Linked DNA regions of Homo sapiens: region 1 is linked to region 2. Evidence: fine-mapped expression QTL. A gene starts in region 2. The other region holds a variant in brackets. All regions are shown on one strand. Distances are from middle to middle.

Region 1 (8,337 bases), 470 kb after region 2:
GCAAAGAACTTTTCATATCATTGGGTGGAGTTTTCACAGAAGCAGCAGCGCCAACTCCTGCAAAAGACTGTAATTCTTACTGTATTATTTATTGCATCTTCCTATTGGAAAATAGCTTTAGACCCATCTTTTAGCCATATGAAGATGTGGTATGATATGAAGAAGTAAAAACCTCCCTAACCAAGAGAATTTGACAATATTAGAATATATTCCTTAACTAAAATAACACTTGCTAGCTAACACTTAGCAGGAATGCTTCTTTTCATTCTTTATTGAATGAAACATTATTTAGCTCCTGCTGTATTCTAGATGCTGGGAAAACAAAGATGAATGAAATTTGTCACACCCTTGAAAAGCTCACAGTCCAGCAGGATGACAAACATACAAGCAAAAATTACAATGAAATGTAATACATTTTATAATAAAGATGTGTATAAAGTGCTATAGAAGTGCAAAAGAGATGACATTTCAGCCAGTATAAATTCTGTAAGGAGGCTGGGCATGGTGCCTCACACCTGTAATCCCAGCACTCTGGGAGGATGAAGCGGGCGGATCACTTGAGGTAAGGAGTTCAAGACCAGCCTGGCCAACATGGCAAAATCCCATCTCTACTAAAAATACAAAAATTATCCGGGTGTGGTGGCACGCCCCTATAATCCCAGGTGCTCAAGAGGCTGAAGCAGGATAATCGCTTGAACCCAGGAGGTGGAGGTGGCATTGAGCTGAGATCACACCACTGCACTCCAGCCCGGGTGACAGAGCGAGACTCTGTCCACCCCCCCAAAAAAAAAAAAATTCTAGAAGGACAAAGACTATGTTGGTGTTGTTCAGGATTGTATGCCAGCACCTAGCATAGTACTTGGTGGATTATAAGCACTCAACTAATATCTATAAGATAAAATAACAGAATCTTGAAGGCTAGGTATAAGTTGACTTGGAAGAGGATACTCTAAACAGAAGGAAAGGCTGATAGAAAGAAACAGAAAGTATTTGGTGTTTAGTATACCTGGAAGTACAAACCGCTAGTCACTAGAAGAGACTATGGCAAAGGGCCATTAGAGCTAAGTTGTGAAAAGTTTTGAAAGGCATGCTAAGGAATTTAATTTTGTGAGTAAAGGAACCTTCAAATACTTTTAAGCAAGGGAATATCTAGATCTCATTTTGTTTTAAAGTATCAGTTCTGGTATGGAAAATGAACTGGCAAGGAGAAAGACTGAAGGCAGGAGAATCATTGAAGGAACACTCAGCAAACCCAAACTAAGAAACATTCTCCAAAACGACTGACTTGGACTCTTCAAAATTATAAATATGAAGAAGCAAATACATAAATAAAAAAGCTGGAGAATTGTTATGAATTAAAGGGTACTAAAGAGACACTACTGCTAAATGCATGTGGAACCAGGGTGGGAGAAGCTATAAGGGATATTGAGACAATTGGGGCAATCCGAATATGGGCTGTTTATTAGATCATTTCATAACAAGGTTAAATTTCCTGACTGATTGTGGTTTTGTTGGAAAATTTCCATGTTTATGTTAGAAAACAAAAGCTAAAGTATCTAAGAGTAAAGTATCATGATGTCTGCAACTAAATCTATTCAATCCAAAACTAAAAAAATTTATGTATGTATATATTTGTACATACGTACAGAAAGAGTGTGTGTACAAAGACGGCAATTGACAATTGGTAAATCTAGGTGAACTGTATATGAGTGCTTATTATACTATTGTAAATTTTTTATTTCCTGGAGCCTTGAAATTTTTCTAAGTAAAAACAGTAAAGGAAAATAGACAATAGTGAAAGACAAAAATGAAAAAAGTGAAGGCAACTGAAGTTAGAGGACAGAACGGAGGGGGATGGTAAGGAGAAGAGACAGGGTAAATTAATCAGAGAAATATTTCTGATTCATACTCACATTGGCCCACACCCAGGTGTGGTGTGCACCCAGTGCAGTGGCGTGATCTTGGCTCACTGCAACCTCCACCTCCTAGATTCAAGTGATTCTAATGCCTCAGCCTCCCGCGTAGCTGGGATTACAGCACACTCCACCACACCTGGCTAATTTTTCTATTTTCAGTAGAGACAGGGTTTCACCCTGTTGGTCAGGCTGGTCTCGAACTCCTGACCTCAGGTGATCCACCCACCTCAGTCTCCCAAAGTGCTGGGATTACAGGTGTGAGCCACCGCACCCAGCCTCCCACACCCTCTTTTTTTATAACCCTCTACTCCAATAGGAGCTCCATTGTCTCTGCATTCTTTTCACCTTCCTGGCCATGCCTTTTCTAGTTCTTTCTCTACCCACTCCTTATACATGGTGTTTCTCAAAGTTTGGTAATCAGCTCATAGATCTTTTCACTCCACATATTTCTCTGGGTAATTTCACTCATTTCTAGTGTTGTTATTTTCTCAAGCTACCTATACACTTATGAGTGCAGTATTTCTCTAGTGTCTTTCCCCTGAACTTCTGACTTTGAACATAGAACATAAGCAGTTAGATGTATTTAGATACCCTACTGTCGCTCCTATAATCAGGTCCTCATCCCCTAGACAGTTGCAGTAGGTTTGTAAGTGGTCTCTTTGTCTTCAGTCATGGTCCCATAAATCCAATTTCCACGATGCTGCCAAACCATTCTTTCTAAAGAAGAAATACGAGCATGACAATTATCTGCTTAAAATCCATTATTGTTTCTGATGTCTTGGTCCTTATCCACCCTCCAGCTTCATCACTCATTGCCCCCTGACAAAACTTTACGTTGCAGGATATGCTTTAGTCACACTGAGTCTTGTCTGAATCCCCTGACATACCTTTCTCTGAAATGTTTCCATGTTATTCCCTCTGATGGGATGAGTCCTCCCTAGGCCCACCTTAACCTAGCCCCTTCATCAAAGCTCAGCTTAGGCAAAACCTTTTCCAAAAACCTCAACCCTTATGGGAGAATTATGTACCCTTGCTTTATTTCTCCATTAATATCATATACATATCCCATCATAACCCATACACTATTGTATACCTGTTTACTTTCTGCTTACCCATCTCTCCCCACTGTAAACTCTTGGAGGGCAGGAATGTGTCTTATTCATTTTCATAGCAAGTTATCACTATATGTTGTTGAATTAAACTTGTATTTTAAAAAATCTGATATAGTAATCTCAAGCAGCAAAAAAAAAAGAATCAAAGAATAATAATGATAATAATGATAAAACTTATTGCCTGCCAGGCACTGTAAATACTTTACATGATTTACTCATGTACTCCTCAAAACTCTGAAGTAAGTTCCTATTAATATTATTATTTCACAGGGGAGGAAACTGACACAGAAAGGCTAAGAATCTCTTGAAGGTCATAAATAAGTTATGACAGTATAGTAGAGCCATGATTTGAACCTATGCAGTATAACTCCCTGGTCCTCATCCTTAACCCCTACAGTATACTTCCTCTTGTTGTTTGTTTGTTTGGTTGGTTGGTTTCGGTTTTGGTTTGGGGGTTTTTTCTTAGACTGAACCTCATTCCAATTTTTATATTTTTAGTAGAAATGGGGTTTCACTGTGTTTGCCAGTCTGGTCTCGAACTTGACCTCAAGTGATCCATCCACCCACCTTGGCCTCCCAAAGTGCTGGAATTACAGGCGTGAGCCACCATGCACGGCCTATAATATGACCTTTATTATTGTTTGATTTGTTATCAAGAGCTCCAGATGTACCAGTTTGCTGGTTCCTTAGCCTAGAAATCTTTTCTTAATGAAAAGAAGATGTAAGTAAAAATGAGAGTAATTTCTAGAGATCATAGAGTTATTTAGGATATTTATGTTGTTTTTTTCTTTTTTTTGGAAACAGTTTCTCGCTCTGTGTTCCAGGCTGGAGTACAGTGGCGCAGTCATGGGTCACTGCAGCCTCAAGCTCCTGTGCTCACGTGAGCCTCCCGCCTCACCCTTCAGAGTGGCTAGGACTATAGGTGAGCCACCACGCCAGGATTTTTTTTTTTTCTTTTTTTCATACAGTTGGGACTCTCACTGTGTTGCCCAGAGTGGTCTCAAACTCCTGGGCTAAAGGCATCCTCCCACCTCCACCTCAGCCTCCCAAAGTGCTGGGGATTACAGCACTTTGAACCACCGCCCTTTGCCTATATGTTTATGTTTCTAATGATTTTTCAGATTATTTGAGAAAGCA[G/A]TGTAAGAAAAAAACTAGTTTAAAAAATACATAGGCCAGGCATGGTGGCTCATGCCTATAATCCTAGTACTTTGGGAGGCCGAGGGAGGCGGATAACCTGAGGTCAGCAGTTCAAGACCAGCCAGGCCAACATGGCGAAACCCCATCTCTACTAAAAATACAAAAATTAGCTGGGCGTGGTAGTGTGTGCCTGTAGTCCCAGCTACTCGGGAGACTGAGGCAGGAGAATCGCTTGAACTCGGGAGGCAGAGGTTGCAGTGAACCGAGATCATGCCACTGCACTCCAGCCTGGCCAGGCAACAGAGCGAGACTCCGTCTCAAAAAAAAAAAAACAAAAACATAAAACAAAAAAAAAAACACACACACAAAACATAAGGGCCGAGTACAGTGGCTCACACCTGTAATTTCACCACTCTGGGAGGCCAAGGCCAGTAAATTGCTTGAGCTCAGGAGTTTGAGACCACCTAGGCAACATGGTGAAACCCTGTCTCAACTAAAAATAAAAAAACCAGCTGGGCATGGTGGTACGCCCTTGTAGTTCCAACTACTCAGGAGGCTGAGGCAGGAGGATTGCTTGAGTCCAGGAGGTCAAAGCTGCAGAGAGCTGAGATCACACCACTGCAATCCAGCGTGGGCAACAGAGCAAGAACCTGTCTCAAAACAAAAGGAAAAATGCTTTAAGGAATCACAAAAGAATGAGCTTCTATTCAGTGTTAACAATTAAAATCCCACCTAATCCAGCAAAAAGAATTTGTAGGTCTCATTATGCTTTTGGAAAGGGGATAAGTATACGTATTTTAAGCTAAAGGAAGACTGCTATATACTCTTTCAATTTGGGCAATTATCCTCTGGAAAGTACCTAATGCTTTTAATTAAGTAATGATACTAAAACAAACCTTAATTTTTTGTGTTCTTGTTTTGACTGAGGTAGAAATTTGCTATTCTCCACTTTCGCAAGAGCTGTGATTATTTTTGGATGGAACAACTAACTATCTAGGAATTATCTCAGACTGCATCTTTCTACCCTGACAGATTTTGCATGGTTCCTTAATCCTCTGCATGTGCCAATTACTGTATTTAATTAGAAGGAGATTAGATAGAAGCACTAATAACCCAAGTCAGACACACACACACACACACACACACACACACACACACAGAGAGAGAGAGAGAGAGAGAAAGAAATATGACTTAGTTCCTAGACATCTTTATCATTGAAAAATAATTCCCAAAATGACAGACATTGGCTTGTGTAGGACTCTAGAAATTTGTATGCATAGACACTGGAACAGCCAACAGGAAAGGACTAGAAAGAAATGGCCCTGTTTCAGAATGGTGGTACTCAAATTTTCCAGCTAATGGTACATACCAAAGTTTGAAAGTCAAATACAATACAAGCCTTATTAGAATTAGAAAGAAATAACAAAAAAAAATAGCAGTCCAGTTTAAACCACCCCTCTGTAATCCTGACTCCCAATTGTCAGAGGCAACACTATTAAGTCTTGTAATTATTTCTTCTGGTATTTACCTCCATATTTCTAAGTAACATTCATACTATTATTTCATGATTTTTTTTTCAAGTGTAGGCACTATATAAATTTAGACAAATACTGACTTCCATTCACTTTCTCTCCCTTTTTTTTTTTTTTTTTTTGAGACAGAGTTTCACTCTTGTTGCCCAGGCTGGAGTGCAATGGCACGATCTCGGCTCACCGCAACCTCCACCTCCTGGGTTCAAACGATTCTTCTGCCTCAGCCTCCAAGTAGCTGGGATTACTGGCATGCACCACCACGCCCGGCTAATTTTTGTATTTTTTTAGTAGAGATGGCATTTCTCCATGTTGGTCAGGCTGGTCTTGAACTCCCGACCTCAGGTGATCTGCCTGCCTCAGCCTCTCAAAGTGCTGGGTTACAGGCATGAGCCACCACACCTGGCCCACTTTCTCTCCTTCTTCCTAGTATACCTACATCATCATTTTTGGTTAAATAAATTGTCAATGCTTATACTTTTTTTTTTTAGATGGACTCTCGTTCTATTGCCCAGGCTGGAGTGCAGTGGCACAATCTCGGCTCACTGCAACCTCTGCCTCCCGGGTTCAAGAGATTCTCCTGCCTCAGCCTCCCAGATAGCTGGGACTACAGCCACATGCCTGGCTAAATTTTGTATTTTTGGTAGAGACAGGCTTTTGCCCTGTTGGCCAGGCTGGTCTCAAACTCGGGACCTCAGGTGATCCTCCTGCCTCCCGGCCTCCCAAAGTGCTGGGATTATAGGCATGAGCCACCATGCCCAGCCAATGCTTATACTTTAAATATTGTTTAACAGCTTAACATTTAGTGCTACTAAGATTACATTTCCTTTCTTATACAACTTTTTTCCTAGCTATTTTTTATATGCTTATTTTTTTAAGCACTTACCAGCAATTTGGCCACAAGTTTACAGAACAGTAAAACTCTGCTCAGAATGGTCAAACACACTAGGCAGTTTATCTATTTCCGTTTTTCCTTAGAGACATTGTTGCTGAAGCCCTCTGTCCTGTCCTTCTGCGGCAGTCTTCACTGGCTGTGAGCCTCAGGTCAGCAAACTACTGCTTTTATAGAGCTTGTGAGCTAAGAATGATTTATAACTTCTAACAGTTAAAAAAAAATCAAAAGAGGAACAATATTTTGTGACACATGAAAAGTATATCAAATTTGGCCGGGCGCAGTGGCTCATGCCTGTAATCCCAGCACTTTGGGAGGCCAAGGCTGATGGATCTCGACGTCAGGAGTTCAAGACCAGCCTGGCCAAGATGGGGAAACCCCGTCTCTACTAAAAATACAAAACTTAGCCTGGCGCCGTGGCAGGCGCCTGTAATCCCAACTACTCAGGAGGCTGAGGCAGGAGAATCACTTGAACTTGGGGGGTGGGCGGAGGTTGCAGTGAGCTGAGATCATGCCACTGCACTCCAGCCTGGGCGACAGAGTGAGACTCCATCTTAAAAAAAAGAAAAACATAAAAGTATATGAAATTCAAATTTCAGTCATAAATAAAATTTTATTAGACACAGCTCCTTTGCTTGAGTATTGTCTATGACTGCCTTGGTGCTACCCTGGCAGGGTTGAGCAGTTGCAGCAGAGACCATATGGCCTGCAAAACCTGAAATATTTACTTTCTGGTTCTTTACAAAAAAGGTTTGTTGACCCCTGTCCTAAGCTTGCTCAAAGCTGTTTCCCCTAGATTTTTTTATCACCATTATCCTGAAAATTCTTATCTTTTATCTTAATTCTTTCCTCACACCTGACTGAAAGTTTGGCCTAATATAGAATTCTATGATGGGGCCGGGCGTAGTGGCTCATTTCTGTAATCCCAGCACTTTGGGAGGCTGAGGTAGGAGGACTGCTTGAGCACAGGAGTTTAAGACCAGCCTGGGCAACAGAAAAAGAATGGGGGAGGACTGTGAAGGATCAGATGGAAGACAAAGAAAAGGAAGATGCTAGGAAATTTCGGATTCTAGGGCTCCCAATCAGTGGACTCAGCCTTAGATAGAAGTTTCCAGTGGCATTTGTCTATAGAAGGTCCTGGCCGTACAGGACTTCAAGACCAGCCTGGCCAACATGGTGAAACCCCATCTCTACTAAAAATAAATAAATTTTAAAAATTAGCCGGGCATGGTGGCGCGCGCCTGTAATCCCAGCTACTCCGGAAGCGGAGGCAGGAGAATCGCTTCAACCTGGGAGGAGGAGGCTGCAGTGAGCCAAGATCATGCCACTGCATTCCAGCCTGCACGACAGAGCAAGACCGTGTCTCAAAAAAAAAAAAAGGTCCTGACCATAGATTTGATGAAATGTAACCTTTTTTCTTCAGGCAGCCACAAGATCGCTCCTTCCTAGGAGGCTCTCCTAAATATCTTCATCAGAGTATTTTTATCTTGCGTTTTTGTTTTGTTTTTTTGTTTTGTTTTGTTTTTGAGACAGAGTCTCGCTCCGTCGCCCACGCTAGAGTGCAGTGGCTCAGTCTCGGCTCACTGCAAGCTCCGCCTCCCAGGTTCACACCATTCTCCTGCCTCAGCCTCCCGAGTAGCTGGGACTACAGGCGCCCACCACTGCGCCCGGCTAATTTTTTGTATTTTTAGTAGAGACGGGGTTTCACCATGTTAGCCAGGATGGTCTCGATCTCCTGACCTCATGATCTG
Region 2 (8,337 bases):
ACCCTTAGAATTACATCAAGATAGCTACACAAGTCAGAAATGCAACATGTCAGAAATACTCAATAAAGATCCTGATAGATTATAAGCTCCATGAGGGCAGAGAATCTATCTTGTTTACCCTGTCATCTGGCACATAACTAGCATTTAATCAATATTTAATCTTGTTTTAGTGATCTAGTCTTCAGAGTGCTAATCCTGAATGTAGACCCCAGTCATAGGATTACTGTGGATCAAGTCAAAGAAAATAAAATATATAAAAGTACTCTACTTCGGCACTTTTACAATTATAGACTTTTTTTGTTTTGTTTTGTTTTTGAGACTGAGTTTTCCTCTTGTCGCCCAGGCTGGAGTACAGTGTCATAATATCGGCTCACTGCAATCTCTGCCTCCCATGTTCCAGCAATTCTCCTGCCTCAGCCTTCCAAATAGCTGGGACTATAGGTACCCTCCACCACCCCCAGTTAATTTTGTATTTTTAGTAGAGACGGGGTTTTACCACATCGCCCAGGCTGGTCTTGAACTCCTGACCTCAAGTGATCTGCCAGCCTCAGCCTCCTAAAGTGATGGGATTACAGGTGTGAGCCACAGTGTCTGGCCTAATTGTAAACATTTTTAAAAAACGTCTCAGCATTAGCATTCTGCTGAGCTAGGTATTCTATAAGGATTTATTCCAACTGAATATGCGCATTAGAATGCTGTAAAAACTGAGAAACAGACTCAGATTTATTATGTACTTTTTTGTGTGATAAGTACTGTATATGTGTTAATTTAATCTTGACCAAAACCCCAGGAGATATTATCTTCTACTTGCAGGTGAGGAGACTGAGTAACTTGCTGAAGGTCACATAGTTGGTAACTTCCAGACATGTGATACAAATCCAAATCTGTGTGACTCCGCAGCCCATGCTGGTTTGCCCATAGCAATGTCTCTCAAATTTTTTCATGAAGTAACCTCAAGTTGCAAGAAAAACCAAAACATATTCCCGGGGGGGGTTTGGGAGATTACTGAAGTATCCAGTTTAAGCCTGATGTGTCTCTGACCTCATACTTTTCTCTTAAATTTTATTTTTATATTTGCATTTTACCCCCACATTTTGTTTTTATTTCTATACATATATTTTTTTTTGAGATGGAGTCTCGCTCTGTCACAGAGGCTGGAGTGCAGTGGCATGATCTTGGCTCACTGCAAGCTCTGCCTCCCGGGTTCACACCATTCTCCTGCCTCAGCCTCCCAAGTAGCTGGGACTACAGGTGCCTGCCACCACACCCGGCTAATTTTTTGTATTTTTAGTAGAGATGGGGTTTCACCGTGTTAGCCAGGATAGTCTATCTCCTGATCTCGTGATCCGCCCACCTCGGCCTCCCAAAGTGCTGTGAAACAGGCGTGAGACATCACGCTCAGCTAATTTATTTATTTTTAGAGGGAGTCTCTCTCTGTTTCCAGGCTAGAGTGCAGTGGCCTGATCTCACTCACTGCAACCTCTGCCTCCTGGGTTCAAGCTATTCTCCTGCCTCAGCCTCCTAAGTAGCTGGGACTATAGGCACACATCAACATGCCCAGCTAATTTTTGTGTTTTTAGTAGAGACAGGGTTTCGTCATGTTGGCCAGGATGGTCTTGATCTCTTGACCTCATGATCCACCCGCCTTGGCCTCCCAAAGTGCTAGGATTACAGGAGTGAGCCACCGTGCCCGGCCTACCCCATGTTTTATTAAAGTTTATTTTCTTTTTCAAAAATTTTAATGATTTATCCACACTACACAGATGTAATGTCTGCTTAATATAAACCATTTCAAATGACTTAGGTAAATCATTTAACTCTTCCCTCCCTGAAAGATTTTTTTTGAGAAAAGTGATTACACAAGAAGGTGCACCTTCCATATTTATCCCATAGCTTTGTTTAGTTCCTAGTGCGTGGTTTCAAAAACCTGGATCCCAGTTTGAAAGCATGACTACAGAGCAAATTGCATTAAAGACATCTTAAGAATGATGATGAAAATAATTATTATAGGCAAGGGCCAGAAGATTTTTTTTTTTTTTTTTTCTGAGATGGAGTCTCGCTCTGTCGCCCAGGCTGGAATGTGGTGGCGTGATCTAGGCTCACTGCAAGCTCCGCCTCCTGGGTTCATGCAATTCTCCTGCCTCAGCCTCCCGAGTAGCTGGGACTACAGGCGCCCACCACCGCACCCAGCTAATTTTTTGTATTTTTAGTAGAGACGGGGTTTCATCATGTTAGCCAGGATGGTCTCGATCTCCTGACCTTGTGATCTGCAGAAGATATTAATAGCACTTAAATTATACAGCTATAGATAGAGTTGAGTGGGGGTTTTTTTGTTTTTTTTATTTTGCTTTGTTTTGTTTTTGAGATGGAGTCTCGCTCTGTCGCCCAGATTGGAGTGGAGTTACGCAATCTCAGCTCACTGCAACCTCAACCTCCCGGGCTCAATTGGTTCTCCCACCTCAGCCTCCCAAGTAGCTGGGACTAGAGGCATGTACCACCATGCTGGCTAATTTTTGTATTTTTTGTAGAGATGGGGTTTTGCCCTGTTGCCCAGGCTGGTCTCAAACTCCTGAGATCAAGCGATGTGCCCTCTTTGGCCTCCCAAAGTGCTTGGATTCCAGGCTTAAGCCACTGTGCCAGGCCAAAGTAGTTTTGAACTTTCCACTGTCAACGAAAGAAATTCTAAACACGACTGATTCCACTGAGTTTGACCAAACTAACTGAAGACTTATTGTTGAATGTGGTAATACCATGTTTTTTCTTCACCCAAGAATCTGGGTGCTTTATAAGCATAAGCATGAAATCTCCCTGAAGATAGTATTTATGCATCCACTGAGCGCTCAAATATAGACCATATTAGAAGTTAAGCAATGGGTTGAGTGGCCAACCACATTTTGGCCAGTCCTACAAGACTTTCTTTGACCTACCAAATGGGGTATAAATGCTTCTCGTATTCTCCCCGCCAGTAGGGACTCAAAATCTTAATAGCTCGGGGTAGTAAAAAGGATGCTAGGTTTGAATCTTGGCTTTAAGAAAACTGTGCTGAGGTGTTTTGTTTGTTTGAGACAGGGTTTCACTCTATCACCCAAGCTGGAGTGCAGTGGCGTGATCATAGCTCACTCCCAGGCTGAAGGGATCCTCCCACCACAGACTTCTGAGTAGCTGGGACGACCGGTGCATGCCACCATGCCCGGCTAATTTTTTGTACTTTTGGTACAGACAGTGTTTCGCCATGTTGTCGAGGCTGGTCTCAAACTCATGAGCTCAAAGAGATCCACCTGCCTCGACCTCCCAAAGTGCTGGGATTACAGGCACGAGCCACTGCGCCCGGCCAGCTTTTTTTCTTTTATCAGAATTGATATTAAACTATATGCTGAGCTTCCATGTCCTTATCTTCCTTTTGGCATGGCTATGGCCATTTGAAATGTGTGGGATTTGCTAAAGTGCTCAACATACGTTGTTTCCTTTTTTAGATCTAAGTATGTAGAGGGCTCTGATTTGCAATATTTAGAAAGTTCTTCTAAGCTGGGAAGAAAAGTCAAGACTAAGAATCATTGCCAACAGGGCCGGGCGCGGTGGCTCACGCCTGTACTCCCAGCATTTTGGGAGGCCGAGGCAGGCGGATCACGAGGTCAGGAGTTCGAGACCAGCCTGGCCAATATGGTGAAACCCCTTCTCTAATAATAATACAAAAATTAGCCGGGCATGGTGGCGTGCGCCTGTAATCCCAGGTACTCAAGAGGCTGAGGCAGGAGACTCACTTGAACCCGGGAGGCGAAGGTTGCAGTGAGCCGACATCGTGCCACTGCACTCCATCATGGGCAACACAGTGAGACTCTGTCTCAAAAAAAAAAAAAAAAAAATCGCCAATAGGTAGGGAATAAGTTACCCCCTGCTAAATAAGTTACACTCACCTAGGCAAGGAAGGAACTCATAAACCACCTTCTAAACTGCTTGCCTTCCTCCCCGAAGTTCTGTAATTTAGAGGCGGTCACTACCACTGCTTGAACACCCCTTCCCAAGTCTGTACCACAAAAGGAGCTCTTGTGTAGCCCAGCCCCTCCTTCTCAGGACCCCAGGAGCCCAGACACACTAATGGGGACATTAGTTGCTTACTTTTCCAGCTACTGCTTAAGCTAGGCAGGCCATGAAGAAATAACGGTCTCAGTAACCTCCATGCTCGGGATACGACTCCCGGGAAGACGTGGGTGGGTGCGGGGAATGCGGACTGATCCCTCCCAGCGGCCGTTGGGGGCTGGCCCACAATCCCTCGCGAGGGCGGGAAAAGCAATGTGGTCGTTGCGGGGGGGGGGGGTCAGAAAAGGGGGACGGTCAGCGGGAAGAGCCAAGAGACTGCAACTCTACAAAGAGCACGCAGATTAATTCTAATGATTGTTCCCTGAGCTTTTCACACCAAAATAATGGTAACTGGCTAGTGTGTGCCCGTTACGCTCACTACTCCCACTCGAGATCATTCCTATTAATGACTCTGAGGCTTCACCTAACAGGCCACGGTGGAGGCAAGGAAATGTGGCGTGGAGAACCCACTGGGCCTGGCTCTCCGTCCTATGGTCTCCGTCCATCGTTTTACAGTCAGGGTGTACATTTGATGAGGAATCTCTAAATGGGATTTTGGGGAATCAAAACGGAATGGTGCATAAGTGTGAAAATTTACAAGACTGCGCAAAGCTGCAAGGCCCGGAGCCCCGTGCGGCCAGGCCGCAGAGCCGGCCCCTTCCGCTTTACGTCTGACGTCACGCCGCACGCCCCAGCGAGGGCGTGCGGAGTTTGGCTGCTCCGGGGTTAGCAGGTGAGCCTGCGATGCGCGGGAAGACGTTCCGCTTTGAAATGCAGCGGGATTTGGTGAGTTTCCCGCTGTCTCCAGCGGTGCGGGTGAAGCTGGTGTCTGCGGGGTTCCAGACTGCTGAGGAACTCCTAGAGGTGAAACCCTCCGAGCTTAGCAAAGGTAACGACTCCTGATGGCAAGCTGAGGCACACCGGCCGCCGTCAGCGCCGCCTCAGTCTTCGTTCTCTCGCCTCGGCCTTCAGCCCAGTCTCCGTTAGATTCTGCTTCCTCCCACGTCCATGTTTACAGCGTGAAAGAGCTCCTCGACTCCACTTACAAGTTGTCTGAATGGTTAGGAGAACTGTGGTCGTGAAAACATTTACTAATTGCTTTTCCTCTGGCAATGCCTGCTGAATGCTTTGAGGATTGTCTCATTTAACCCTCAACCCGCTTACGTAGATTATTATATTCAGTATATGGATGAGAGAACTGATATCTTGGGGAGCTTAGGTAACTTTTCATGCTAACTGGGTTAGGAAATACTGGAGTCAGAATTGGTTGTCTAATTTTTGCTGTTCCAAGATCCAAGGGGTAAGGGTTAAATTTCAGAAATGCAGGATTTTGTGTAGGACTAGAGACACTAAGAATGAGAAAGAGAGTAGAATCCCCGGAATCTTGAGGAAGCATAGAAAGAATATTCTCTTACGTAATTAACTGAAACACCCAAAACCTCATATTCCAGAGCATTGCAGATGGGAACCACTGCATCCTGAGACATACAAATATGAGGCTGGCGGTGGTCACTTGTTGTGCACATCTCTCTATGACATGTCTGGACCTGTGCTATTCACTGAAGAAGATGGAACAGAATTTTAAGTTACTGCCCTTACTGATGGAAAATACAGAGGTTTCAATTCGCCTCTAAAGAATAAGTCTCGTGGACCCAGCCTTAACTGTTTAAGTCATACCGCGCGCAGACTGTGTCCCCCAAGATTTGATGGGCTCTTTTTTCTTCAACAAGTTGGCTTTTCAAAGAAGAAATGTGAGACCCTGAATAATAATGATCACTAACAACTATTGACTACTTTAGATGGTCTTGATATTCTACCAAGCTTTTTACATGTATCGTCTCATTCCCATTTTATAGACGAAAAAAATCTGAGCAAAAAAGAAAAAGTGAAGTAACTTGCCCAAAGTCATGCAGTAAGTGGTGCCAGGATTTACAAACCCAGGCAATCTAATTCCAGCATTCAGGCTCTTGATAGGATTTTCATTTCCTAAATGCTGTCATCACCATTGTCTTTTATTAGCCCCATATTTATGGCTCATATTCTTATCAGATCAAGCACTGATATATCAAACTGATAAGTGATGTCATCCTCACCATTATTTCTTCACCAGCTTGTTTTGTAATTGCCATTTTCTTTTCTCAGGCCACACTGTCAGATGGGTGAAATTGTGTAGTCGAGGAAGCATAAATGTATTCTTTAAAATGCTTGTGCCTTGAATAATTGTTCTCATTAGTTTGGAGTGATACATGAATTTTTTACATCAGTTATTTCCATGAAAAGTTTTTATTATAAATAATACATGCATATGTGCTTCTTAAAGTTGTACCTTGTTTTAGGCAGTTAAAACATCTATTTTCATTCTCATCTGAAAAATAATTTGTATACCTTATGAGAGCGAGATAATTATGGCTTCATAAGACCAAAAGGGATAGTAAAAATATGGTAATAGTGAGTACATTTTTATTTCTGCTTCCTGAGACACTTGTAGGTACTCAGAAATGCTTTAGTTGAATTGTTTCTGAGGTAATAGGTAATTCTTTATGTGATGACTAAGAAAACGAATACCTTTATTAAGCTGAATTTTTTTTTTTTTTTTTTTGAGACGGAGTCTCGCACTGTCATCCAGGCTGGAATGCAGTGGTGCGATCCAGGCTGGAGTGCAGTGGTGCAGGTTCAAGTGATTGTCCTGCCTCAGCCTCCCAAGTAGCTGGAATTATAACGCGTGCCACCATGCCCGGCTAATTTTTGTATTTTTAGTAGAGACGGAGTTTCACCATGTTGGCCAGGCTGGTCTTCAACTCCTGACCTCAGGTGATCTGGCTGCCTCAGCCTCCCAAAGTACTGGGATTTTAGGCATGAGCCACTGTGTCCGGCCAAACTGAAAAATTAAATGGTTGATAGAATGTTGCATTTTTATGTTTCTCCACTCCTAGCATCACTGTTGTCTACAAATTAATAAAGACAATCGATTATCATGTTACACTTTTAAATCTCTAAAATTAGGGTTCTTTTTTTCTTATTTTACTTTCAGAAGTTGGGATATCTAAAGCAGAAGCCTTAGAAACTCTGCAAATTATCAGAAGAGAATGTCTCACAAATAAACCAAGATATGCTGGTACATCTGAGTCACACAAGAAGTGTACAGCACTGGAACTTCTTGAGCAGGAGCATACCCAGGGCTTCATAATCACCTTCTGTTCAGCACTAGATGATATTCTTGGGGGTGGAGTGCCCTTAATGAAAACAACAGAAATTTGTGGTGCACCAGGTGTTGGAAAAACACAATTATGGTAAAATAAAGTGTTCTCCTTTTAAGGGTGGGTTTAATAACATATTATGAAAGTAGTATTTTGTACTATCGTCAGGAAACCAAATAAGATATATATGTGCTCTTAATTTTAAGTGTGTATGTGCATTAAACAAAAATTAGCTTACTATTTGTGTTACTTCATTATCCCTTCTTGATAAATGTATGCAATTATTCTGATGTGAAAAAGTGTTTCTTTTGCAAATTGTACTGCAGTCATAAGGTTAAACAGGAAGTTTCTGCGTTATTCATTCCTGAGACTATATTTGAAAGTCAGATGTTTGAAAGTAGATTTATGGCTAGGGGTAGTGGCTCATGCCTATAATCCCAGCACTTTGGGAGGCCGAGGCAGGAGGATTGCTTGAGCCCAGGAGTTTGAGGCCTGCCTGGGCAACATAGTGAGACCTCGTCTCTACTAAAAATGGAAAATTAGCTGAGTGTGGTGGCACATGCCTGTGGTCCTAGCTACTTGGGAGGCTGAGGCAGGAGGATAGCTTGAGCCGGGGAGGTCAAAACTGCAGTGAGCCTTAATCACATCACTGGGCAGCAGAGTGAGACCCTATCTCAAAAAAAAAAGAGGCCGGGGATGGTGGCTCACACCTGTAATCCCAGCACTTTGGGAGGCTGAGGCGGGTGGATCACCTGAGATCAGGAGTTCAAGACCAGCCTAGTCAACATGGCGAAACCCCATCTCTACTAAAAATAAAAAAATTAGCCAGGCATGGTGGTTCACGCCTATAGTCTCAGCTCCTCGGGAGGCTGAGGCAGGAGAATCGCTTGTACTTGGGAGGTGGAGGTTGCAGTGAGCCGAGATCATGCCACTGCACTCCAGCTTGGGTGACAGAGCAAGACTCTGTCTCAAAAGAAAAAAAAAAAAGGTAGATTTATGTATAATAAGGGGCTCCATTTTGAGAGGCCTGGAAATGATTAAAATATTCTTAATTGGCTGGGCG

Evidence for each region. PIP is the estimated chance that this variant, and not a neighbour inherited with it, causes the effect.
Region 1: its variant is fine-mapped to the expression of TEX14 in whole blood (TOPMed, PIP above 0.99).

What each region holds. Positions count from the first base shown.
Region 1 is chr17:59,156,927-59,165,263 of GRCh38, forward strand. All of the region lies in intron 1 of PRR11 (proline rich 11), which reads left to right. Among named protein-coding and RNA genes, the nearest start is that of PRR11, 5.3 kb to the left of the region's middle. RefSeq lists an enhancer at 1,306-2,505. The variant G/A (reference allele first, on the strand shown) is at 4,166.
Region 2 is chr17:58,687,823-58,696,159 of GRCh38, forward strand. It overlaps TEX14 (testis expressed 14, intercellular bridge forming factor), which reads right to left and starts at 4,223. Exons shown (of 32, transcript NM_031272.5): 1 at 4,117-4,223. It overlaps IGBP1C (IGBP1 family member C), which reads right to left and starts at 4,223. Exons shown (of 2, transcript NM_001395966.1): 1 at 4,117-4,223. RAD51C (RAD51 paralog C) reads left to right here and starts at 4,780. Exons shown (of 9, transcript NM_058216.3): 1 at 4,780-4,966; 2 at 7,109-7,367. The coding sequence starts at 4,822. RefSeq lists enhancers at 4,538-4,637, 4,968-5,137.